2 linked regions of the Homo sapiens genome follow. The protein of the gene in region 1 purifies or fractionates together with the protein of each later gene. This does not show direct contact. Each region holds a gene or a part of one and is shown in the gene's direction. Other genes may lie near its edges. The genes, in order: GON4L and RNF10.

Region 1 (3,500 bases):
ATTTCCAGAGGAAACCCTCTGGATCTCTTCTGCAACACCCCTCCCCCAAAACATGTTTAATGTGGTATCTTTGTGGAGAACAGATACTCAGAAATTTTTAATTCAATTCTCATCCGTTGCTAGATTTATATTAGCTTCGTTCACTTTCTTTCTTTTTTTTATTTTTTTATTTTTTTTTTGAGACGGAGTCTTGCTCTGTCGCCCAGGCTGGAGTGCAGTGGTGCGATCTTGGCTCACTGCAACCTCTGCCTCCCAGGTTCAAGCGATTCTCCTGCCTCACCCTCCTGAGTAGCTGGGATTACAGGCATCTGCCCCCACACCCAGCTAATTTTTGTATTTTTAGTAGAGATGGGGTTTTACCATGTTGGTCAGGCTGGTATCGAACTCCTAACCTTATGATCCACCCGCCTCGGCCTCCCAGAGTGCTGGGATTACAGGCGTGAGCCACTGTGCCTGGCAGTTCACTTTGTTAAACTGATTGTTACCTTATCTGTCATGTGTGGGGCTAAGACCCATGTTTATTTCAGAAAACACTGCTTGTTCCTCATCAAGACATAGTCTCTCAAAAGCACTACAGAAGCCACACTTGCTCTTTAGACTTCCTTTCTCAATATGAAGTAGCTGATTATCTTGTTGTCATCCCAATTAAGGCAGTTACACTGCAGACTCTGCGTAGAACTGACTTGACGGACTTAGTTCTCATACCATTTTCCCAAAAACCTTTTCCTTGAATTGCTCCATAATATTGAATAGGATTTGGCTGGGGTGGTGCATGTGGTGGAATGGGAAGAACACAGGTTGCAGGGACAGGGAAACAATCCTTTTCATGTGTGCTACAAGGAGAGAGCATCAAAGCTGCTGGAAAAGGCCGGAACAATCATCGAGCTCGCAACAAGCGGGGAAGTCGGGCTCGGGCCAGCAAGGACACCTCCAAGCTGCTGTTGCTGTATGATGAGGACATTCTCGAGCGAGATCCACTCAGGGAGCAGAAGGACTTGGCCTTTGCCCAAGCTTATCTGACCAGGGTAGGCAAATGCTGCTTCCTGTTATTGCCAGTCTCTATGAATGTGGCTGCTTCTTCAAGGGAGATGTTTTTCAACATAAAGTCTGTTTTTCAGGCTATGCAACAGGCTTCATATTCCTCTATCTTGGCTTTTCTGGCAAAAGATCTCTGTGACAGAACCACAAGGAGACATAGAATTCAATCATAAGTATGTTTATTGTTAGTACCCTGCCATCATCCTTCTGTTGACCAGAGATTGGCAGAAAGATGATACCACCATCATCAGTGGGAGGTTGTGACTTTACTGGGTGCGCTGATAAGGACCTTTATAGAACCTTTGGCTTGAGAAGAAAGATAGTGGGTACACTGGCCAGCAAGTGGATTTCAGGAAAATACATTGCTCTTAAGACATGAACCAGCTGGGCGTGGTGGCTGACACCTATAATCCCAGCACTTTGGGAGGCCGAGGTGGGTGGATCACCTGAGGTCAGGAGTTAGAGACCAGCCTGACCAACATGGTGAAACCCTGTCTCTACTAAAATACAAAAATTAGCCGGGTGTGGTGGTGGGCGCCTGTAATCCTAGCTACGGGGGAGGCTGAGGCACAAGAATCACTTGAACCTGGGAGACGGAGTTTGCAGTGAGCCGAGATCGCACCACTGCACTCCAGCCTTGGTGACAGGGCGACACTCTGTCTCAAAAAAAAAAAAAAAATGAACCAGGCTGGGCGCTGTGGCCCTTGCATATAATGCCAGCACTTTGGGAGGCTGGGGTAGGAGGATCCTTGAGTCCAGGAGTTCAAGACAAGACAAGCCTGGGCAACACAGGAGACCTCCATCTCTACAAAAATAAAAAAAAAATAGTGAGCTAAGCATGGTGGTGCATGCCTGTGGTCCTAGGTACTTTGGGAGTCTGAGGTGGGAGGATCACTTGGGCCCAGGTGGTTGAGACTGCAGTGAGCCATGATTGCATCAGTGCACTCCATCCTGGGCAACAGAATGAGACCCTGTCTCAAAAAAAAAAAAAAAAAAAAAAACCACACATAAGCTAACCACTTCTTGGTAGTGTCCTGGAGAACTGTGTCCTTCTCTTGGTAACCACCTGATTCCTTTATCCCCCTGGAAAGCAGAATACTGGCAATGATAGTCATAGCTTTTTCTTATCTCCTAATGTTTTACTGACATTCCTAACTTATGTATTATTTACTCTCAAATTACGCCCATGCTGAAATACATGTACAAACACATGTTACCTATTTCATTATGGGGCTGTAATCAGTAAGGAAAGGTTAGGGCTGTGACCTAGAGAAAAGCATTGCTTGGTTTTGTGGGTAGAACTGTGGAACGTGGAAGATGATTTTTCACTTGCTCACTCCCAGAAAAAGATCTTTACCTTGCCTATTGCTCTGTGTCTTCCATTAACAGTCAGATGTTAAGATCTGTTGGAGGCACAGCCTCTGATGGATAATTCTTGGAGCTCTCTAACCATAACCCTGCCTTCTCCCTTGTACCCTTATTGCTTGTTGTGGCCCAAATAAAGGGTGTTGATGATTGAAAGTCTTCCCGTGTAGGTGCGAGAAGCCCTACAACATATCCCTGGCAAGTATGAAGACTTCCTTCAAGTCATCTATGAATTTGAGTCAAGTACCCAGAGACGGACGGCTGTAGATCTCTACAAAAGCCTGCAAATTCTGCTCCAAGACTGGCCTCAGCTGTTGAAAGACTTTGCTGCTTTCCTGTTACCTGAGCAAGCTCTGGCCTGTGGATTAGTAAGTGAATGGGGAAAAAAAGTACACTGGGACTCCTGGGTCAGAGTGAGACTGGGATTGAATGGGGTTGAATAAGACTCTTTCAGTCTCCCAGCTCCTTCCAGACACACAGCCATCCCCTAGCCCAGAGTGATAAAAGCCTCTGTCTTTTCAGGGTATTATCTTTCCAATCCCATTCTCCCATTTTCTTTACATGATAAATGAGAGGGTTTTACCTATAGTTGCCAAAGGACACCTTAGGTGAGTCATATGCTCTCTGCTTCTCACTGGTATCAAGCCAGACATTCATTTAACAAATATTTGTTAGGTGCCTCCTAACTGTCAGGAATTCCTAGCAATTCCTGACCTCAATTGCTAGGAATATAGTAATTACAAAAGACTAAAATTCCTGCCCTCGTGGAGCTTACGTTATCATGAGGAAATTCAGATGATACTCCAGAAAACATATATATATATATATCATATATATATATATATAATATATAAAATATAAATTATAAAAATAAATATAAACAGCAAAATATATAGTATACAATGTTTTATAGTGATCATGTTTTACAGAAAAATAAAGCAGGAAAGGAAACTAGAGGGGTGGTTTTATACACAGCGGTCTGGGAAGGCCACTGTGGTATGGTAACGTGAAATGTTGCAGAATAGGAGGCTAAACATGAGGGATATCCCAGTAGTCCTGGACTTATCGTCATAAAAATAGGAACAAAGGGAGGAACG
Region 2 (4,027 bases), on another chromosome or scaffold:
GGTCCTAGTGCAGTGCCTCATGAACCAGGGCTGCTAATGGCCTGCATTTGATTTCTAAGTGAATAGATGACAATTTCTGCTGAGGGTTTATTGGTAGATCCTGACAGTCTAGCTTTTTCCTGTCTTTCCTATTTCTAGCTGCCAATTTGTGGTGTCTGAAGACCAAGACTACACAGCTCATTTTGCTGATCCTGATACATTAGTTAACTGGGACTTTGTGGAACAAGTGGTGAGTAGCTCAGCCAAGCCCATAAGCTATGAATGGGAGCACTAAATAAAGGCACTGTGGTGACGCAGCAGCTGTTGGCTGTGTGCACTGCTTGATACCCTTTTCTGCCTGGCCTTTCTATAGATGTTTCCCAGAGGTCAGTTCCTGGTTCTTCCTGGAGTCCATTTTGTGACTAATTGGCTCTGGCCTGTAGGGATGGTGTATGAAAGGCTCTGATCTGAAGATGTGTAAGCTGGGAAGTAGTAACCCCTTACCCTCCTGATCTGGGTTGGGCTCATTACAGGGCCATTGCTTCATTGGCAGCCATTCGTAGCAATCACTATCAAAGTAGGCCTCAGCCTTGTGGCAGGGAGGCACATGAATGAGCCACACAGTTGTACTTTTCTTTTTTGAGAAAGAGTCTCACTCTGTTGCCCAGGCTGGAGTACAGTGGTGTGATCTTGGCTCACTGCAACCTCTGCCTCCAGGGTTCAAGCAATTCTCATGCCTCAGCCTCCTGAGTAGCTGGGATTACAGGCACCCGCCACCACGCCTGGCTAATTTTTGTATTTTTAGTAGAGACGGGGTTTCACCTTGTTGGCCAGGCTGTTTTTGAACTCCTGACTGCAAGTGATCCACCCACCTTGGCCTCCCAAAGTGTTGGGGTTACAGGCGTGAGCCACTCTATCTGGCCCAGTTGTACTTTTTTTTTTTTTTGAGACGGAGTTTCGCTCTTGTTGCCCAGGCTGGAGTACAGTGGTGCAATCTTGGCTCACTGCAACCTCTGCCTGCCAGGTTCAAGCGATTCTCCTGCCTCAGCCTCCCGAGTAACTGGGACTACAGGCACGCACCACCACTCCCAGCTAATTTTTTTTTGTATTTTTTTTTAGTAGAGATGGGGTTTCTCCATGTTGGTCAGGCTGGTCTTGAATTCCTGACCTCAGGTGATCCTCCCGACTTGGCCTCCCAAAGTGGTGGGATTACAGGCATGAGCCATCGTACCTGGCCTCTTTTTTTTTTTGAGACAGTCTTGCTCTGTCGCCCCAGCTGGAGTGCAGTGGCGCGATGTTGGCTCACTGTAACCTCCACCTCTTGGGTTCAAGCAATTCTCATGCCTCAGCCTCCTGAGTAGCTGGGATTACAGGCGTGCACCACTATGCCTGGCTAATTTTTGTATTTTCATTAGAGACGGGGTTCCACCGTGTTGTCCAGGCTTGTCTCAAACTCCCAGCTTCAAGTGATCAACCTGTCTCGGCCTCCCAAAGTGTTGGGATTACAGGCGTGAGCCACCACGCCCAGCTTCAGTTGCACTTTCAAAGCCACTGATGTGTTTTCTACTGAAGTTATAAACTCTAGGTATCCCCTTGTTGGTCCTAGTAGGGTATCTGTTGAAGAATAATAATTTCAAAATGATGGGCACTTTTTCTTTATGAGCAGGGGCTTTTGACCTTAAAGCTTGAACTCTCGCCGGGCGCGGTGGCTCACGCCTATAATCCCAGCACTTTGGGAGGCTGAGGCGGGCGGATCACGGGGTCAGGAGATCGAGACCATCCTGGCTAACACGGTGAAACCCCGTCTCTACTAAAAAAAAAAATTAGCCCGGCGCAGTGGCGGGTACCTGTAGTCACAGCTACTTGGGAGGCTGAGGCAGGAGAATGGCGTGAACCCGGGAGATGGAGCTTGCAGTGAGCCGAGATGGCGCCACTGCACTCCAGCCTGGGTGACAGAGTGAGACTCCGTCTCAAAAAAAAAAAAAAAAAAAAAAAAAAAGCTTGAACTCTCACTACTGTGAAAATGTATAAAATCATCTGAGAATGACATAGCATAAAAACTTAAGTTTTATTAAAAAAAAATGAAGTCTTTTTAATGCGTTCTTTGTTGGAAGTTACTGGTAGATTACTTCTAGACCCTTTTTAGGCCTTTATGCATACATATTAAGTTTTTTTATAAATGGGAATATAGTGATTTGTCACTTTTTTCTATTTAATGTAGAACCCCCAACATACCTGTTGTGTATTAGTTTTATTATATTTAACGGTTATTATGGTTTCCTTGATGCTTTGCTTAAAGAGCTATCATACAAAGCCAGGCGCGGTGGCTCACGCCGGTAATTCCAGGACTTTGGGAGGCCGAGGCGGGCGGATCACAAGGTCAGGAGATCAAGACCATCCTGGCTAACACAGTGAAACCCCGTCTCTACTAAAAAATTAGCTGAGCGTGGTGGCAGGCGCCTGTAGTCCCAGCTACTCCAGAGGCTGAGGCAGGAGAATGGCGTGAACCAAGGAGATGGACCGTCTCAAAAAAAAAAAAAAAAGAAAAAAATGATCATACATGTACCTACGTTGTAAACAATTTTAGAAAGATATGTTGAGTATAAGGATGTACGGGGATAGAGATGAGAGAGATGCGGATGAGAGAGTAGAGAGGCCTAAAACTTTGACAGTCCCTAATCAGTTCTTCAAGCAGTGAACCTTCTGGTGGCATTTTGTTTCAGCGCATTTGTAGCCATGAAGTGCCATCTTGCCCAATATGCCTCTATCCACCTACTGCAGCCAAGATAACCCGTTGTGGACACATCTTCTGCTGGGCATGCATCCTGCACTATCTTTCACTGAGTGAGAAGACGTGGAGTAAATGTCCCATCTGTTACAGTTCTGTGCATAAGAAGGATCTCAAGAGGTGAGATTGAGACATTTACTCAGTTAGATCCCAATCTCTTCACTCCTTGCCCTGCTACATATGAGTGTCCATGTTTCAGTGTTGTTGCCACAGAGTCACATCAGTATGTTGTTGGTGATACCATTACGATGCAGCTGATGAAGAGGGAGAAAGGGGTGTTGGTGGCTTTGCCCAAATCCAAATGGATGAATGTAGACCATCCCATTCATCTAGGAGGTGAGTTCTTTAAATTTTGGGGACAAATAATCCTGGGTACATTCTTTAAGGTGATTGAATATATCTAAGCATCAGAAAGTGAAGCCTTTGGGCAGGGCACATCTGGCATGTTCATATTAGTCATAGGATTCCAGTAGGTTAGGGTGGGGTTTGTAGAGAGTAGATTAATTATTGGTTTCAAGTTTGTTTAATCTATACATCCTAATTTTTCATTTTACAAGGTTTTATTACATAGTGTCTTTCACTGTGCCCAATCTTAGAGGTTCTGTGGTCAGCCAGTCTTGGTGCCTGTCGTCAAGAAACTCAGTAGTCCGATAGAAGAGACAGACTGGTAGACTGGCCATTAGGATAAAGAGTGTGATAAGTGCTCACAATGAATGCCAGAGATGTATTCCCTGTGTTTCATGCAGAAATGAGCATTTGATTAAAATAGCATTTCAGTCTCTGGGGAAAAGATAGATTTCTCAATAAATGGTATTGAAACAATTGATTCTCCCTAAGGAAAAAATAAAATTAGATTCCTATTTCATACCATTCATGAAATTAATTCCAGATAGATTGAAGAAGTAAATGTAAAAAATCCAAAAGTTTTAACCTTTTTATTTAAAAGAAAATATAGGACAATTTCTTTATAAATCCTCAGATGTGCATCTGTCTGAAGGATTGTGTGTTCTCATTTGGGTGGTAAATGTGTGTGTGTAATATTTTTTTCCTAGTGATTTTGACTGTTTAAATGTTTAGCAACTTAAAACATTAAAAATGTGTATTAATTAAAAAAAAATCCTCAGATATGGGTGGATTTTTGAACCAGGCTGAAATGATAGATGCTGTAAAAGACTGATAAATTTTATTTTTATTTTATTTATAGATATATAATATAATATGTATATATATATTTTTTTTTGAGACAGAGTCTGGCTCTGT

Evidence for each region.
Region 2: the proteins of GON4L (region 1) and RNF10 purify together in Homo sapiens (co-immunoprecipitation; one large-scale study listed by IntAct). This does not show direct contact.

What each region holds. Positions count from the first base shown.
Region 1 is NC_000001.11:155,759,715-155,763,214, reverse strand, and holds part of GON4L (GON-4-like protein), read left to right. Parts: intron 1-840; coding exon 841-1,025; intron 1,026-2,573; coding exon 2,574-2,771; intron 2,772-3,500. UniProt on the Homo sapiens protein: Has transcriptional repressor activity, probably as part of a complex with YY1, SIN3A and HDAC1. Required for B cell lymphopoiesis.
Region 2 is NC_000012.12:120,554,580-120,558,606, forward strand, and holds part of RNF10 (E3 ubiquitin-protein ligase RNF10), read left to right. Parts: intron 1-138; coding exon 139-229; intron 230-2,702; coding exon 2,703-2,887; intron 2,888-2,966; coding exon 2,967-3,103; intron 3,104-4,027. UniProt on the Homo sapiens protein: E3 ubiquitin-protein ligase that catalyzes monoubiquitination of 40S ribosomal proteins RPS2/us5 and RPS3/us3 in response to ribosome stalling.